Linked DNA regions of Homo sapiens. The protein of the gene in region 3 interacts with the protein of the main gene of each other region in a pairwise test. Each region holds a gene or a part of one and is shown on either strand. Other genes may lie near its edges.

Region 1 (3,522 bases), on a different chromosome or scaffold from region 3:
GCTTCCCAGGTTCAAGCAATTCTCCTGCCTCAGTCTCTCGAGCAGCTGGGATTACAGGCACCTGCCACCACGCCCAGCGAATTTTGTATTTTTAGTAGAGATGGGGTTTCTCCATATTGGTCAGGCTGGTCTCTAACTCCCAACCTCAGGTGATCTGCCCGCCTCAGCCTCCCAAAGTCCTGGGATTACAGGTGTGAGCCATCACGCCCAGCCTTTCTTTGCCTGTTATTTTAAACTTTGAGTTTCAAGATGGGTACAGTGGCATGCACTTATAGTCTCAGCTACTCAGGAGGCTGAGGTGGGAGGATCACTTGAGGCCAGAAGTTCAAGGCTATATAGTGTGCTGATTGCACCTGTGACTAGCCACTGCACACTATAGCCTGGGCAACACAGTGAGACTCCATCTCTTAAAAAATAAGTAAATTAGTTAAAAATAAAATTTGAATTTTATTTAAGCTGGGTATGGGCATGCAAGACTATATTAATTTGTAATTATGATTGGAAACTGGGCATATTTCCAAATTATGTATTTGGAAATTACTGTTTAATGTAGAGGGGAGAAATAAAATTTATAGCATTTGGGAACTCAGGCATTTTGGATTAAACATGTATAATCAATGTGAGAACAGTGAATGTGTTTACCACTCTCAGAAACCCTGACTTGTAGCTTTGGCACAGTATTCAGGGTGGTGATAATGAAATTGTTATCATTAGATAAAGCCACACATCTTCTACTGGAGGAACAGTTCCTCATTGGCCCCGCATGGATGTTCTCTCCTCAGTGTATTTTCACAGAATGTACTGTGCATGTTATAAACAGGGTGTATAATAGATGAGCATTTGTTTACCAGTTCTTTCCTCAAGATATCATTTGAGGACTTGATCATGGAACATAGACAAATTGTTGTTGTGAAACAATTTTTTTTGTTTTGTCAGTAATTTTGTTTATAAGCAAAAATTTTTATGTAAGACTCATTATTCATAAATTCTTTTGAATTTTTTTTTTTTTTTTTTTTTTTTTTTTTTTTTTTGTGACAGAGTCTTGCTGTGTCGCCCAGGCTGAAGTGCAGTGGCGTGATCTCAGCTCACTGCAAGCTCCGCCTCCCGGGTTCACACCATTCTCCTGCCTCAGTCTCCCAAGTAGCTGGGACTAAAGGCGCCTGCCGCCACGCCCAGCTAATTTTTTGTATTTTTTAGTAGAGATGGGGTTTCACCATGTTAGCCAGGATGGTCTCGATCTCCTGACCTCGTGATCTGCCCGCCTCAGCCTCCCAAAGTGCTGAGATTACAGGTGTGAGCCACCACGCCCGGCCGATTCTTTTGAATTTCTATAAATTCCCTGAATTAAACCCACCTCTAGTAGGCTAAATAAAAATGAATGCTTTTAAAGCACTCTGATATCTTTGGTAAAACAATTCTGACACAAAAATTAAAATTTCAATTATATTTTGCTGAGTCTTTCTAGGTTGCTGTTGATGTAAGCAGTGGCCAGGCTGAGAGCTTAGCAGTTAAAATTCACAACATCTTGTATCCCTATCGTTTCACCAAAGGAATGATTCATTCAATGCAGGTAAAAGATTAACTTCAAAATCTCATAAATATATATATATATATATATATATATATATATATATGGCCTAACTCTTCTAAAATTTGATTTATTTAATGATATAGACCACCTTGGTCAAGGCACGTGTGTGTGTGTGTGTGTGTGTGTGTGTTCTTACTAGAACTTTTATCATCAGAAGAAAAAGCAAGGGATTAATTATAATTACAAAGAAAGAAATATCTTTAGTAGTGTAAGTAGGTTTGGAGGGAATGAATTATGGATTCAGGCTGACAGTTTCAAGGATTCTCAAGGTTCTCCTGCAGAAGATTATATATTGACTTTATATTTGGCAATAATTTATAAATCAAAGTCCTTTAGTGACCTTGTCCTTAAGTGTGCAACAGTGCCCTTTTAGAAATTACCTTCTATTGTGTGAGCCTACACAGGTTTGGGAAAGCCCATATTGAGAAGTCATTTCACAAAAGGGACCCTTTGTCTGATCTGCTTTTCTATTTTGCCTTGTGTTTACCACCATGGCTGTCTTATTCCCTTTGTTTTCAGTACGGAAACAAATTAGGAGGCTAACAAATTTGGGTAAACTCCTAACCTGGCATTGACCTGGTACCAGAGCAGGCAAGCAGTTGATCCAGAAATAGACCCTGGGGCAGTGGTATAGGCTCGGGGGTATTGGAGAGCCTCAAGTACCTAGACAGAGAGGAACCACCAAGGTCTAAAGCCACCAGTGGCTTTTAACTTACTTCTTTAATAGACTAGCAGCCGGGCGCGCTGGCTCACGCCTGTAATCCCAGCACTTTGGGAGGCCGAGGTGGGTGGATCATGAGGTCAGGAGTTCGAGACCATCCTGGCTAACACGGTGAAACCCCGTCTCTACTAAAAATACAAAAAATTAGCTGGGCGTGGTGGCGGGCACCTGTACTCCCAGCTACTCGGGAGGCTGAGGCAGGAGAATGGCATGGAGGCAGGAGAATGGCATGAACCCAGGAGGCAGAGCTTGCAGTGAGCCGAGATCACACCATTGCACTCCAGCCTGGGTGACAAAGTGAGACTCCGTCTCAAAAAAAAAAAAATTAAAAATAAATAAAAATAAAAATAGACTAGTTTCTCCATAATCGTTTTCCTTGCTTTCATATAAATTTTAAAAATTTATTTCAGCCTGTATGTTAGCAATCTCTGGTCACATTACCTATTCTCAAGAGTCACTCTGTTGGGAACATCTCAGGCCTTCTCTAAAGTATTGCTAGCACACCACTCTGAGACGTGGGAGTCTGTCTTCCCCTGTCGCCTCCCTCCCCTTACATCTTCTGATCAACTCCACCTGCCCATTCTTTCATCCTTCCTAGTGACTTTTTCTGGTTCATCAGAACCTTACCCAGTCTCAAAGAAAGGAGTGTGATAAGGCAAACAACTCTAAATAAAATACAGTTCTGTATCTTTCTATGCAAATAAGCCTTTGTTAATTTTTATTTAGTGTTGTACCACTTATTTGAATGTCTGACAGGTTCTCCAGCAAGTAGATAACAAGTTTATTGCCTGTTTGATGAGCACTAAGACTGAAGAGAATGGCGAGGCAGGTAAGAATGGAGTTTAGCCTGAATGATTAACCAGCTGGTCTTCTTGTAACCTTTTTTTAATGATTATTTTTGGTATATAATATAGTTTCAATGATTTGGATGGATTAGGGAAAGCCAATCTAAAACTAAGAATATTATGAAGGCTGGGTGCGGTGGCTCACACCTGTAATCCCAACACTTTGGGAGGTGAGGCAGGTGGATGGCTTGAGGCCAGGAGTTCAGGACCAGCCTGAGCAACATGGCAAAACCCCGTCTCTACTAAAAATACAAAAATTAGCTGGGCATGGTGGTGTGCACCTGTAGTCCCAGCTACTCAGGAGGCTAAGGCACAAGAATCGCTTGAACTTGGGAGGCAGAGGATGTAGTGAGCCGAGATTGCGC
Region 2 (3,522 bases), on a different chromosome or scaffold from region 3:
CTCCAAATCTCTTATTATTCTTCAATATTGCACAAATCGGCCTTCGCTTTCATCTCTACAGCTTTGAAGCACAGTTATTGTTATATTTGGGAAGACAGAAGAGTTGGAAATAAACCTCAGTTTATTTCCTCTATGAGCAATGCAAAAATCCACTGGGATTCCTTAAGCATGATCCCTTTATTATGTAATAGGCATTGAGTTAGTAATTAGGCAAAATAATAGCTGATGTGATCAGGTCAAAAACAATAGATAAAATAATGTAATGGACTAGTTGCAACTATTGGCTTCAACTACATAAGGCTATCAAGTCTAGGCGATATCATTCAAGATGTAGATGCTTACGGAACAACAAACTAAGAGTTGGAGAAACAAAACCTATTACAAAACACATCATTCACTTTTTTGTTTGCCCCTTTTCCCCCTCATTCTATTATGCAATTTGTATACTCACTCGTTTCCGATGAGGACTAATTTCTAGCTTCATCACCGCACATTTGTTTAAAGTATTTAGACGCCTATAGAGCAAAGAAATAACGTTAGCAAAGATAGGCAACCACTCTCTAATGAGTGGATAAACACCTGTTTTTAAACAATTCATATATTTAAGGAGTTTCTTGAAACTCAGTAATACCTAATACCTAGAGGAGTATTAGAAACTTATTTAAAAAGTGAGTCATTTAAAAATACCTTGGCCGGGCGTGGTGGCTCACGCCTGTAATCCCAGCACTTTGGGAGGCCTAGGCGGGTGGATCACGAGGTCAGGAGAGCGAGACCATCCTGGCTAACACGGTGAAACCCCGTCTCTACTAAAAATACAAAAAAACAAGCCGGGCCTGGTGGTGGGCGCCTGTAGTCCCAGCTACTCAGGAGGCTGAGGCAGGAGAATGGCGTGAACCCGGGAGGCGGAGATTGCAGTGAGCCAAGATAGCGCCACTGCACTCCAGCCTGGGCGACAGAGTGAGACTCCTTCTCAAAATAAATAAATAAATAAATAAATAAATAAATAAATAAATAAATAAATACCTTTATGTTTTGTAAGTTTTTCACTTTAATTTTTATATTTTAGTGTGAAATGGCACACAGCTATGATACTGTCAAGTCTCTCTGATTCTTCAACTCTCAATGAGTTGTTCTTACTAAGAAAAATCATTCTTCCAATAACTCTTAGGTTGAGCCATTATGGACTGCCGCACATGGAGCCAAGAAAGAAAAGTTTGTGACTCGGCACGGTGGCTCATGCCTGTAATCCCAGCACTTTGGGAGGCCGAGGCAGGCAGATCACCTGAAGTCAGGAGTTTGAGACCAGCCTGTCCAACATGGCGAAACCCCAACTCTACTAAAAATGCAAAAATTAGCTGGGCATGGTCGTGGGTGCCTGTAATGCCAGCTACTCGGGAGGCTGTGGCAGGAAGAATCGCTTGAACCTGGGAGGTGAAGGTTGTAGTGAGCTGAGATTGTGCCACTGCACTCCAGCCTGGGCAAAAGAGCCAGACTCCATCTCAAAAAAAAAAAAAAAAAAAAGAAAGAAAGAAAAGAAAAGTTTGTGATGTCTCCTTTCATAGAAATAGAAACAGCAAAACAGCAACAAAGAACCAAGTAGAGTTTTTGGCAAAATAAACAGTGTCTTGTATTTGAAATCAAAACTCAAATTTAAAAAATTAGTTTTAGTTATCTCCGATGAATCATAATCTTGGACAGCCTGTCTAAAATTTTAGAGTCCTTGCACAGAATGGAAATTGAAGCCCTCTTTAATATCCAATATTTAGAACAGCTTCCTGTTATAGGACAATATAATGTGTGCTATAGTCACGGCAAATGATCATTTAAAGAATTTGCGTACTGTAACTTCAAGGATCCAAATCTTACCGGGTTCAAAATTAAGCACTCAGGTAAGACTCTTTTTGCAACAGCCATCCTATTGTCATTTTGATACCAATACTTTCACCTCTGCCAAACAGCAATATCAATTTAAAATTAGGGAAATTTAGTTTCGTTGAAAATAAAATACTTACAAAAAAAAAAAAAACCCAAAACCTCATGGAGAAATAATGCAACAGTTGAAAAAAGAAACACTTTAAATATGCTGAACTAAACGGTATGTACAACTATGAATGACAGCCCTTCAAGGCCCCAATTTTCCTGCCATCTCCCAGATGATCATCACTTAGTCTTCCTCAAATGAACCTGTAATGTGTCTGTTTGCCATCTGCTATCACCAGTTTTCTAGTTTTTCCTACGAATTGCAATTCTACATTTTCATAAGATCAGATCATTTAATTCACACAAATTCCTGGGAACCGTGAGACCTCCTCAGGGCTTTATCTTCCTGATCCTGTTCTTGCTGTTTGCCTAACAATGTTGATGCAACAGAATAGAAAGCATTTTTGCCTGCCTGATAAGCCCGATTTTGCCTTCATACCTTAGGTGGTAGCCTGTTTATAGAATAAATAAAGATAGCCCAGAGCGCCTAGGTTCAGAAAAGTTCTCTCTGTTGATGGGGAAGAAAAGAAAACAAATAACTAAGAAAAAGTCTGCACACTTTAAAATGAGTGGATATAAGGTCCCTCTATTGGGGGTATCAATTACTTAAATGACTTACACCCACAGTGTTTTAGTTCTCAAATGCTTTCAAGATTTAAAGAATCCGGAATGGTTACAGTTAGTCTTAGGTCTGGGTTCCATTAATCAAACCTGTAATCAAATAGTCACTTGACTTCATTTGGGCTTTAATGGTTGAATGGTGTTTATAACCAAATTTACTAGCCAGAGGCCTATGGGGCTGGAGAGGGGTTTAGCCTCACAAACTCCAGATTTTAGTCAAACTAAAAAGACCCAGGAGGCCAGTTCTATAAAGGTCAACATTACCTTTTTATGTTGGTAGCACCCAGCTAATGGCATTACAGACCTAAAGCCCAGAGTTATACCCTAGGGTTTCTGTGGTTTTCATTTGTCCTGGAGGACCCCCAAAGAATGTACTCTGCTGGGACCTTATTTCCTTACAGAGACAGTACTGATATCAAATCATAGTTCCAGCTACACAAACGAGGCCTACTGCGGGCCAGGCACTATGCTAGGCACTTCCTATATATGACTTCATCTTCCCAACGACCCTATGGTACAGATATTATGATTAACCTAGATTTTACAGATGAGGAAATGGGGCTCAGGGAGGTCACAGATCTTGTCTAAGTCCACACGATTAAAACATGGTGGCTCTCAAACCCAGTAACTTCTAGGTTCCTTTCTTTTTCTTCTTTTTTTTTTTTTTTGGAGACAGTCTTGCTCTATTGCCCAGGCTGGAGTGCAGTGGCTCACTGCAACCTCCGCCTCCCCGTTTCAAGCAATTCTCATGCCTCAGCCTCCTGAGCAGCTGGGACTACAGGTGCCCGCCACCAGGCCCAGCTAATTTTTTGTATTTTTAGTAGAAGTGGGGGTTTGCCATGTTGCCCGGCTGGTCTCGACCTCCTGAGCTCAGGCAATCCGCTCATCTCGGCCTCCCAAAGTGCTAGGATCACAGGCATG
Region 3 (4,129 bases):
AAGGAGTGGTGAGGACCTTGAAATTGTTCCCATTGTTTTCTCTCTGGGCTTGGACATGGGCTGTACACTAATGTCCAGTTAATTTTAGAGTGGGTGTAGCTAAGAACTAAGTAAGTGTTCAAAAGCAACCAGTAAGCCTCATGTCTCCTTTACATATTGATCTTGTAGAAGGGGAAGAAGGGGGAAGGGAAGGGAATTAGTTGAATGAAAGTGGAATTGTGCTCCAGGTGTGTTGCATGCCTTTTTGAATCCTCAAAATAACCCTGGGGTGGATCCTCTTTAATTAGGTGGAAAGACACAGAGAGGCTAAGTAAATTATTCATGCTCACACAGCTAAAAAGAAGTGAGTGTGATAACAACCCAGTTGCAACTGAATCCAAACCCAGGTGTGTCTGAATCTTTGAACATTACATAACCCTGATCACCACAGGGTTGGGAGCGTTTATCACAGTTTTTAGGGTTGAACAGGAATTGAAGGGGTAAGGATTCCTATTTTTGTGGTTTCTAAGTAATCTATTAAATACAAAAGTATATGGTAGGGTACCTTGATAGATGGGTTCCCTACAAGTGATTAAATTTGTGGACTTTTTTTTTTTTTTTCTATTTTGGTCAAGACCAGTTGCCAGCTTCTTCCAAATAAAATAGCAGTAAATCTCCTTGAAACAGATCTTCCATGTCCTGAAAAAAGTTACCTGAGTGGTATCTCTTGGCTAAGCAAGTGTAGGGAGAGTATGTTTCATTGTTCTGCTGTTTTGAGAGCCTTAAGCATCTTATATGGGAAGTGGTTCTCTGTGAGAAAGAGGATTGGTATGGAGGCACAGATGCTGGGACAAGTCCTAGCCCTGCTCTTCTGAGGACAGTTCATGCTCTGAGAACTCACAATAGTATGTGGGACACCTCAGGGAGCTGGTAACATTTGGGGTACAGGCAGTGATGTATTTACTGGTAAACAAATTCTCCAAAACAAAACAAAAACAACTAAAAGCTTTTGTTCTTTTCTCACCATGGCTGATCTAAAGCTACCAACATGACATAAATGCGTGGGAAGAGACACATGCATTCTGGATCTCCCCTGGAACCACAGGCTCCGGCTCACCCAATGGTGGAGATCTGTTAGTGTGTGAGGACTTCTGCACTGAATGTTCCACTAGGGAAAAGGCTTCCTGGAATGAGAGAGCTCTCAGTTTCTCTTCTAGGCCTCAGATCTGATTTTCAAAATCAGCATAGCTGGTGTAGCTAGCATCCACCTCTGCTGTGGAGACACAATTGTCAGTCTCTGCATCTGTGAGCAACAGACATAATGCCACTTTGGCATCCTAGGGAGATTCCACTGCAGCCTGACTCTACTGCCTCTCCTCCGTAGGACAACTAACTAAATGTCTCATTGTCTCCACCTGGGGGTAGGGACCAGTGTCGGAGGTGAGAGCACTTTCTGGGAGAACACTTTGCTTGCCCTATTTAGCTGGAGGTCCCCTTCATTGAAATTAATGCTGGTGTGGGCTGCCAACCCTGGAAACCCACTGCTAATGAGGATGATGGCTGAGCTGGGCACTTAGTCCAGGCTTAGCATTTCCTATAAGAGCCCTGAAGCTAGTTTCTGTTCAGGAGCTGGAGCAACAAGTCAGGAGGAGGCCAAATGAACTCCTACCCCTCAAACATGCACAGCGATTTCTGGATGCATTGTGGGGAATGGGGCTGCAATCTGCCGAAGGAAAAGATGGGATTCTGTCCCCTAAGAAAAGTGATTACGAGATGCCCAGCAAAGACAAATATATTTGTCCCTGTTGCTACAATAGGAAGTTAACAATCTGGCAAGATATCTGAACACAAGCAAATGAAAACAGTTCACCTAACACCCATGCAAATTATAAATTTCCTCCCATATACAAAATGATGAGAAATAACAGCAAAAATGTATACTTTCTTATTTTTGAACTTTTAAAGTTCTAGTTTGGTCTTTGAATCAAAACAAAGTAAAAGATGTTTATAAAAGCCATTTCCTTTTCTTTCCCCACTATGCTCATTTGACTTGCTCTTCCCCCTATAGGGTACCCTGAGTCATTCAGAGAAGGAGAATTAATAGCACTGAGTTGGTGATGAAGCTCCTGTTAGGACATATGGCTTCACAAAAAGAAATACTTCCAGATAAGTCAGAGAGACAGTTGGACGTCTTGAGCAAATCTTGAAAGAGATAGGGAAGAAAGCAGAAGTTGTTGGGTGGTGCTTGTAAGAAAAAGGCTCATACGATGAGGACCAGCTTCTTGTGGATCTCCAGGTCTCTGACCACAGCACTGAATTCCTCAAAGGATATCTTCCCATCGCCATCCTTGTCCAGGATGATGATGGTTTTGTCGACCAGCTGCTGGAGCTGCCAGTCCGTCAGGTTGTTGCCCACCATCATCTTCAGCACCTGGAAGAGCTCCCCGTTGGAAATGTAGCCATCTTTATCCATGTCGTAAATGCTGAACGCAAACCTCAACTTCTGCTCCTCGTCGCCCTTGACGCTGAACTGGGAGGTCCCCAGGATGAATTCCTTGAAGTCCACTTCTCCATCACCGTCGGTGTCGAAGACGTCGATCACTCGCCGCACCAACGGGTTGTGGCGCAGCTCCGGCAGGGACATGAACTCCTCCACGCTCAGAGACCCTGATTTGTCCAAGTCCAACTTCTTAAACCTCCTGCCCAGCCTTTTAATTTCATCATTGTCAAAGTGGGAGCACATCTCCGCCGGGTAACTGGCCTCGTTTCCCATTGTGGACATCTGGCAACGGCCACGGCTCAAAGGGTCGGAGAGGGGAGCAGGGGCGGTGAGCTCGGGCGGGGCTCGTGCCCGGACGGTTGGGCCATGGGGTGGGGGTAGAGGGCTCCCGGGGGCCCTGGTCGAGCAAAAGGGCAGGGGAGCGGAGGGAGGGGCGGCAGGTCAGAGAGGGAGCGGAGAGAGGAGGGAAAGAAGGAGGGAAAAGGGGGCGGAAGGGGAGGTGGGTGCTGTCTGGGCAGGAGTATAGGGAGGAGAGAATGGAGCCTGGGGGTGCCCGGGAGAGGCAGAGGTGGAAAGCTGGGCTGCCCCTTCTCTTTTTCCTTCTCTCAAACTCCTTGTACCTTTCCATGATAACCCCAATTTCCCTGGCAATTATTTTATCTACTTATTTCTTTTTTTTTTTTCTCTGAGAAAGTAAACCCCAAAGGAGAAGGGATCGCACCTGTGTTATTCGCTGCAGTATCCCAGAAGCACAGTGCTTCACAGGCAATATGTGCTTAATAAATATACGCCGAATGACTGAACTGCAACCAAGGACACTGTATACTTGCTTTACAGACCTAGTGTAAGGATGAAACAAGGTGACACATCAAGGCATTGATATAGTATGTTTTCCACGATTCCCTGGGAGGGGAAGCCGGGATTGACATCCTTCTGTACCTTTTTCAGGACGTAGGATTCAGAGTGTTTGTAAGAGACCAGGCAGATACCGCGCAGAATTTCTTACATGGATCACCTACAGGCACTAACATATTCCCGAGGAATATAAACAATGCTGAATTCAGGGCGTTTTTCAAGATGACACAGGTCTCAAGAACACAACCTCTGTTACTCTGTTCCCTCTTATCCATCATCTCATGCCCGAGTCACATCTTTGTTGTTGGTGCCTGGCGGCTATTCTGCAGAATACCTTGGGGGAAGGTCTGCAATGTGCCCAAAGAAGCCTTTTGTGTGTGTTGAGAGTGACAGTCGCCTCTGGATGATCTCACTTTTCTCCTTTTGTTTCAACTAGATTTGTTCTTTCTGTTGAAGACTAATCTCACATGCTCCCTCTTATTCCTTCTTCCTTTCGGAGCGCATCAATTACTCCAAATGCATAAGAAACAAATGTGGTTCAAGAGCAAACAGTTCAAAGGGACTTGGGGGAACCTCAGGCCACTACATCAAACTGAAAGATGCAAACACTCCTTCGCTTTAAAAAATGTTGGCAAGTTCTGTGTTCTATAGTTCAGCCAAAATATCAGTCTAAAGATAACCATGCTGGAACTAGCAAAACTAAGCCACTGATCACCTTATCATTAAGTCTGGCCATTTTACTTTCCTCTATAAACAAATGATAATCCATGGATATGTTTTAAAGCTGATTATGGG
Region 4 (3,522 bases), on a different chromosome or scaffold from region 3:
ATTGCCAGCTCCCTCCTGTGTGATATGCATCTGAAATGATTCTGCATCATGGCTGCTCCATGCTAAGCCGATCTCCGTCGTGCTGACCACTGTCACTCGGAAGTCAGAAACTGGAACAGGGGCTATGCAAAGAAAGTAAACAACTAGATTAAAAATATACTTCTCCAGGAGACAGGGATGCCCCACCTCAGAAAATACTGAGATGAAATGTACACTTAGGACACCTGATCCCTCTCTCTGTCTTCTTTGTATCATCACCTACAACATGAGCCCCTCAGAAACTGCTGTTTCTGGCCATGGAGAGAGCACTTGATCATGAGAGTGCAGAAGCTCTGTGCTTACATTGCACACAATCATTCACAGGAAATGAGAGGAGGCGTGAGCTCCTGTGGTCAAGGGCTCAGGCTCTGGAGGAGAACCTTGGCCACACTGGCTGCTTTATCTCGAATGCATTACTAGCCTCCCAGAGCCTCTGTTCAGGGAGGGACAGCAGAGAGAGACCAGTCTTGACCCCCAAAATCCATTCCCCCATTTTCCCTTCATCATACCCACCCAGATTTTTAGCCCTGTGTGTGCATACCTGTTGGAAACAAAGACCACATTTCCCAGCTCCCATGGAGCTAGATGTTGCAATGTGACTAAGTTTTGCTCAACGAAGCATGAGCAGAGGTACTGGGTGACTTCTAGGAAGTGTCCTTTAAGGGTGGGGCACAACCTTCTGCCCTTCCTCCTTCTTATACCTGTAGTGTGGATGCAATGACTGGAGCTCACGCTGCCTGGCTCTAGAACCAAAACCTCAGCGGTGGCTGCAGCTTCCTGATCCCAGGATCACAGCTCAGAACATAGACCCCTGGATCCCGCAACTACAGCAGAGACTTCCTGATTCCTCCCTCTGCTGTCTGTGACCAAGGTGGTGACTCTCCAGGGGGTCAGTTCTGCAGACTTAGTCCAGGAGTCATTTCTTGGGGCGAGGCCTAAAGCCTGCTCCTCAACTGTTATGAGCTGACTTGTGCTCCCTCACCCCCAAATGTGTATGTTTATGTCCTAACCCCCAAGACCTCAGAATGTGGCTGTCTTTGGAGACAGGGTCTTCAAAGAGGTAATTAAGTTAATGTGAGGTCATGAAGGTAGGCCCTAATCCAGCAAGACTGGTGTCCTTATAAAGGGAGATGAGGGCATAGGCACACGCAGACTAAGGACAACCATGTGAGGGAGAAGACAGTCATCTATAAGCCAAGAGGGAGGCCTCAGAAGAAACCACACCTGCCGTTGCCTTAATCTTTGACCTTCAGCCTCCAGAACTATGAGAAAGTCTATTTCTGTTCAAGCCACACAGCCTTTGGTACTTGTTCTGGTAGCCCTAGCAAACTAATACACCAGCTCTTCCAATGATTCTGCAAAACCTCAATTCCCAGGATAAATCCCTTTTGGTTAAAATAGCTCACAGTTTCTGTTTCATACAACTGAGCCTTGGATAACCTCTATCATCCCCATCCTGCCTAGCACTGGGCTTCTGTTACAGGAGAGAGAAATAAACCCCTGTCTTGTTTAAGCCACGGATACTTGGGTTTTGTTGTTGTTGTTTTTGGTGGTGTTATTCGTGGCTGAACCTAATCCTAACTAATAAATAGTAAAAGAGTAAAAGGTAAAGAAATGCAAGCATATTTCATTTTCCCAAAGATCCAGTCCAAAATACATCTATAAGAATGCTAAGGTGTGCTTCCTGCGAAGGAATGGACATTCTTGTGGGATAAGCCTGGGTCCAGAGCCACACACCCCTGAGTTCAAGTCCTGCTCTGCTACTCACTAGCTCTGTGGCTTTGGGCAAACTGTTCAGCCATCAGGGTGTCATTTCCTCATCTGTAAAAGGGGACCCCAATACCTACCTCGGAGGCCACTACAGTGTCTATAAATCTCATGGCACAGTGCAAAATGCAGTGCTGGTGTCACTACTATTGTTTAATAGTATATAATCAATATTATACCACTGTACTACTAGTGCACCATTACTGTTTTATTTTACATTATCGGACCTTCTTTGAAACCTAAAGCTTTTTATTTGCTGCATAAAATCTTATTTTTAAGGGACATTTAAACAAACAAAGATGAGATACAGCTGTGCCAGTGATTCGTTATAATGTCAGCACCCAAGACACAAGGGGATATGAATACCAGGTCATTTTTGTCTCCCTGTATCAATTCACTCTAGGTCTCCTCCACACTGGAAAGAGAGTTACAAGCGCAGGCTCCAGGTGAGAAATACCAGAGGCTTAATCTCACCTCTGCCACTTTCCAGCTGTGATACCTGTCTAGCACCTCTCTCAGCCTTGGCTTCCTATCTATAAAATAAGGCTACTTCCAACCACATCACAGGGCTGTTGTGAGCATACAATGTGCCAGTGCAAGGAAAGCATGTCACACGAAGCTTGGCGTGTGGTCAGCCAACAGTCACCATTACTACATCATGCATCCTGTGTCTGGGCCTGGCACGGAGCAGGACAGCAGGAAAGGGTGGTGAGAGCCAGGCATGAACTCACGGGTGTGCACTTGGAGGAAGCCCGGCGTGCCCTCGATGTCACCTAGGACAGGACACACTGTGATGTTGTAGAAGGTGCTGGAGCGGAGTCCGGGGATGACAGCGCGAGGCTCACTGACGTTGAGATTGGAAGAATCTGTCTCCCCCGCCACATGTATCTTGTAGGTATAGTTAGATGACGACTCGTTATCGCTGACTTTCCAGATCAGGGTCAGGCTTGTGGCACTGATGTTCACAGCGGTGACGTCAAAAACCTGAATAGCATCTGTGAGAACACAAGAGGAGTTCAAAATAACCAGAACGGCCAAGGCAGAGGGAGGGAGAGGTCATCAGGGCATGCTGTCAAGCCCAGCAAACTCTCCTGGGGGAGTGTTCCTTCCTCCTCTGCACCATCAACCGTGGCTAGGAAAGCATGACGGTCCCAGCCAAAGTCAGGCATCATTGGGCGGTGAAGAAACAACCTGGCCAATGGCACCTGCAGGGTTATTCTTTGTTCCTTTTTGTAAGTTGACTTTAGAGATTTGACCTAAATGATGACTTGGACTCTATGCATGTCTTACCCTAGGGCCAGGGGCACCCAGAAAAGTTGTCAAACACACATGATGCAAGAGCGAACACTGCGATCTATGTGATCGCCCGAGATCACAGAAGTCAGGACGAGGCAGGCCTGGGTTCCAGGGCTCACTCTGCTATGACACCCAGGTGGGCCACAGGAAAACCACTTGAGCTCAGCTTCCTCACCTATAAAACTGGAGAGCAATCCTAACCTCAAGAAAAGATAACCCGAGTGCCAGTTATTCACCACCTGCCCACTCCACCCTCCCGACATATCCACTGCCCTTCCCTCACCTGCTCTGGGCCCAGGAGGCTGACCTTGTGCAAGGCATCATGGGGGGTCTTGCCACATGGGCTGTGACCGGGTTCCACTATGAGCCAATGGGCAGGCCCCTGAAGGGCCACAGGAGAAAGGAGTCAGTGCCTTCCTC
Region 5 (3,522 bases), on a different chromosome or scaffold from region 3:
TATTTTTTTGAGACGGAGTTTCACTCTGTCACCCAGGCTGGAGTGCGGTGGTACGAACTCGGCTCACTGTAACCTCTGCATCCCGGGTTCAAGCGACTCTTCTGCCTCAGCTCTGCCTGAGTAACTGGAATTGCAGGTGCATGCTACCACATCTGGCTAATTTATATTTCTTGTAGAGACGGGGTTTCACCATGTTGGCCAGGCTAATCTCCAACTCCTGGCCTCAAGTGATCTGCCTGCTTTGGCCTCCCAAAGGGCTGGGATTACAGGCATGAGCCACTGCACCTGGCCACACAATATGAATTTTTAAACATCCATCTCTATGCATAATAGTTTTCTATAACATTTTGGTTTCCCATAAAATTCCACACATCATACATTTTCATAGAAAATTGTCATATGGTTTTGTCACATGGTTTCCTGTAAAATTTCACTCTTTCAGCAAATGTTGGTAGGATTTGCAATTTTTTTTTTTTTTTTTTTTGAGATGGAGTCTCGCTCTCTGTCACCCAGGCTGGATGGAGTGCACTGGCACTATCTCGGCTCAATGCAAGCTCCACCTCCCAGGTTCGCACCATTCTCCTGCCTCAGCCTCCTGAGTAGCTGGGACTACAGGCACCTGCCACCACGCCCAGCTAATTTTCTGTATTTTTAATAGAGACGGGATTTCACCGGGTTAGCCAGGATAGCCTCGATCTCCTGACCTCGTGATCCGCCCACCTCGGCCTCCCAAAGTGCTGGGATTACAGGCATGAGCCACCGCACCCGGCCTGCAATTGTTATTAACTGGGTAAAGAAATAAAATCTGTGACTTTTGCCCTTTGAGCTTCTATTTTTATGATCTATTAGGGTAAAATGGAACATGTCAGAAACAATGTGTAATAATAGTTAAGAAGGAATTTTGTTAACTATTACAAATCCTCAACCCTACACAGTTTTAAAAAAAAATGCTTACCTGAGGCGAGAATCCTTAAAGGTGTCCAGATACGCAGGGTAGCTCCACCCAATTCTACTCCCTTTACATCGAAGCTCTACAGTTTGCCCCGCCAGCAGACTCAGGGTAGCGGCGGGTTTCTGGAAGCGACCTTTATCCAGCACTTGCATCATGATAGACTGCGTCTTTGGTGCTGAATTGGCTGAGTCCCTGTCCTTCATTTTAGGAATTTTGGGCTTCACCTTCTTGTTGGTAGGTTTGATTCTATTCTCTCCTGGTTCTTTTGGACGCTTGTTCTTGGGAAGGTGTTGGCCAGTAACTGCAAAACGTAAGGAGAGAGAAATGCGCTGTAGTAATGACATTTTTGGAATATTTGAGGCCAATAACTTTTTTTTTTTTTTGAGACAGATTCTTACTCTATTGCCCAGGTTGGAGGGCAGTGGCATAATCTCAGCTCACTGCAACCTCCACCTCCCAGGTTCAAGTGATTCTCTTGCCTGAGCACCCTGAGTAGCTGAGATTACAGGTGCCCGCCGCCACACCCAACTCATTTTTGTATTTTTAGTAGAGACATGGAGACAGGGTCTCAGCACGTTGGTCAGGCTGGTCTCGAAGTCCTGACCTCAGGTGATCCACCTGCCTTGGCCTCCCAAAGTGCTGGGATTACAGGAGTGAGCCACCATGCCCAGCCCTCATAGCTTTTAGGTAACTCTAGAGAAGATAACTTTTTAATCCTCCCCTCCTCATATGTCAATATTGTTTTCAGTAAAAGTCATGTAATTATCATCTTTTGATTAATTTTAAAACATTAAAAAATATTTCAGCTCCAAAGATATTATTCAAATTCAGCAAAACAGTTCATGTATGAGCTAAAATTTGCCCTTAGAAAACAAAAATATTACTGCCTGTAGTTCACACCGTCTCATAGTCTCCAAGCAGTCACACAAAACAGCAGAACTGAAGCCATTCAAGGCTGTTTGTTTACTTTGCAGTCTATATGTTGTCACCATTCATTTTGATTCTACTGTTTAAACACAGAAATCTGTAGCTCCACAGAGACTGGGGACACAAACTGTGCTGAAAGTGCACGCAAAATATTTTGTGTTTAACGTTAGAAACGGAATCTCACTCTGTCACCCAGGCTGGAATGCAATGGCATGATCCTAGCTCACTGTAGCCTTGAACTCCTGGGCTCAAGTGATCCTCCTGCCTCAGCCTCCTGAGTAGCTAGGCCTACACATATGTGAGACCATGCTGAGCTAATTTTTTTTTTTTAAAGATGGGGCCTTGCTATGTTGCCCAAGCTGGTCTCAAACTCCTGGCCTCAAGCAACCCTCCCACGTAGGCCTCCCAAAGTGCTGCAATTATAGGTGTGAGCCACTCTGCCCAGCCAAGATTTTGAACCACAGTGAACTTTCTCTCAAAACAAATGGTAAAGCAGACATTACATTTGTCAGGGGCTGGCGATGTCTAGGTAGAATAAAATGCTTATTATTAAAGAGTAAATATTATGTGTATACTAATCTGAAGCTTACATATAAATTATCAAAACTCAACTGTAACTGTAGCAACGATTTAGAATTTCACCAACAAAATGTCTCTGGGGAAGGAGTATTTTATCACCAACATTGTTGAGAGTTGCTGGCAAATAGTGATAATAAAAAGCTAACTGACTTTAAGTTGCTTTTGTTGTCATTTTTGCCTTCTCTATAAGTAAGGCACCCTTATTGCCTGCATCCAGGGAAGAGTGCCCCCACTGTTCTGCCTGTGGTGGGCCACCGGACTCTAAAAATCTCAGCTAAGCCCCTTGCAGCCACACAGTTGTGTCCACTCAACAAGAATGAATAGGGGACTGTAGGCCAGGTGTGGTGGCTCATGCCTGTAATCCCAGCATTTTGGGAGGCCAACGCAGGTGGATCAGTTGAGGTCAGAAGTTTGAGACCAGCCTGGGCAACATGGCGAAACCCCATCTCTACTAAAAATACAAAATTAGCCAGGCATGGTGGCGCATGCCTGTAATCCCAGCTACCACTCGGGAGGCTGAGGCACAAGAACTGCTTGAACCCGGGAGGCGGAGGTTACAGTGAGCCGAGATCACACCACTGCACTCCAATGCCTGGAGACTGAGACTGAGACCGAGACTTGAGCCCACAAGTCCGAGTTTATGATGAGCTATGATTGTACCACTGCACTGCAGTCTGGGTGACAGAGCAAGACTCTCTCTCAAAAAAAGAAAGAAAGAAAGAAAGAAAAGCCCACCATTATCATGCCCAAGAAATCTGTGCCCCATAAATACTTTAATGCCTGTGAAATTAATGAACCTCTGGATTAAGGTCTAATTTGGTATTCTGTGTATCATGTAACAGGAATTCAAGCTACCAGAAATGACAATAACCATCTGTAAATCCTATGGAATTTAGACAAACAGAGCTACTTGTCTGATCCTTCTAAGCTATCACATCTTGTGTATCTATGTTACTCAGGAACATGAGATTATCTGATTTTGGAGATTATGCATCCAAATATTTGCTATTATCTATGCAAAATAATTTGACCTTTTGACCAAATAGCCCCACCAGCTGATCTAA

Evidence for each region.
Region 1: the proteins of PPP3R2 (region 3) and MLH3 interact in a two-hybrid assay, tested with the Homo sapiens proteins (one large-scale study listed by BioGRID and IntAct).
Region 2: the proteins of PPP3R2 (region 3) and DLC1 interact in a two-hybrid assay, tested with the Homo sapiens proteins (one large-scale study listed by BioGRID and IntAct).
Region 4: the proteins of PPP3R2 (region 3) and PTPRJ interact in a two-hybrid assay, tested with the Homo sapiens proteins (one large-scale study listed by BioGRID and IntAct).
Region 5: the proteins of PPP3R2 (region 3) and PDGFRL interact in a two-hybrid assay, tested with the Homo sapiens proteins (one large-scale study listed by BioGRID and IntAct).

What each region holds. Positions count from the first base shown.
Region 1 is NC_000014.9:75,037,959-75,041,480, reverse strand, and holds part of MLH3 (DNA mismatch repair protein Mlh3), read left to right. Parts: intron 1-1,456; coding exon of another isoform or gene 1,457-1,465; coding exon 1,466-1,570; intron 1,571-3,068; coding exon 3,069-3,141; intron 3,142-3,522. UniProt on the Homo sapiens protein: Probably involved in the repair of mismatches in DNA.
Region 2 is NC_000008.11:13,102,339-13,105,860, forward strand, and holds part of DLC1 (rho GTPase-activating protein 7), read right to left. Parts: intron 516-3,522; coding exon 452-515; intron 1-451. UniProt on the Homo sapiens protein: Functions as a GTPase-activating protein for the small GTPases RHOA, RHOB, RHOC and CDC42, terminating their downstream signaling.
Region 3 is NC_000009.12:101,592,170-101,596,298, forward strand, and holds the start of PPP3R2 (calcineurin subunit B type 2), read right to left. Parts: upstream 2,801-4,129; 5' UTR 2,753-2,800; coding exon 2,240-2,752; 3' UTR 1-2,239. UniProt on the Homo sapiens protein: Regulatory subunit of calcineurin, a calcium-dependent, calmodulin stimulated protein phosphatase. Confers calcium sensitivity.
Region 4 is NC_000011.10:48,127,059-48,130,580, reverse strand, and holds part of PTPRJ (receptor-type tyrosine-protein phosphatase eta isoform 1 precursor), read right to left. Parts: intron 2,802-3,522; coding exon 2,538-2,801; intron 123-2,537; coding exon 1-122. UniProt on the Homo sapiens protein: Tyrosine phosphatase which dephosphorylates or contributes to the dephosphorylation of CTNND1, FLT3, PDGFRB, MET, KDR, LYN, SRC, MAPK1, MAPK3, EGFR, TJP1, OCLN, PIK3R1 and PIK3R2. Plays a role in cell adhesion, migration, proliferation and differentiation.
Region 5 is NC_000008.11:17,587,199-17,590,720, reverse strand, and holds part of PDGFRL (platelet-derived growth factor receptor-like protein precursor), read right to left. Parts: intron 1,254-3,522; coding exon 956-1,253; intron 1-955.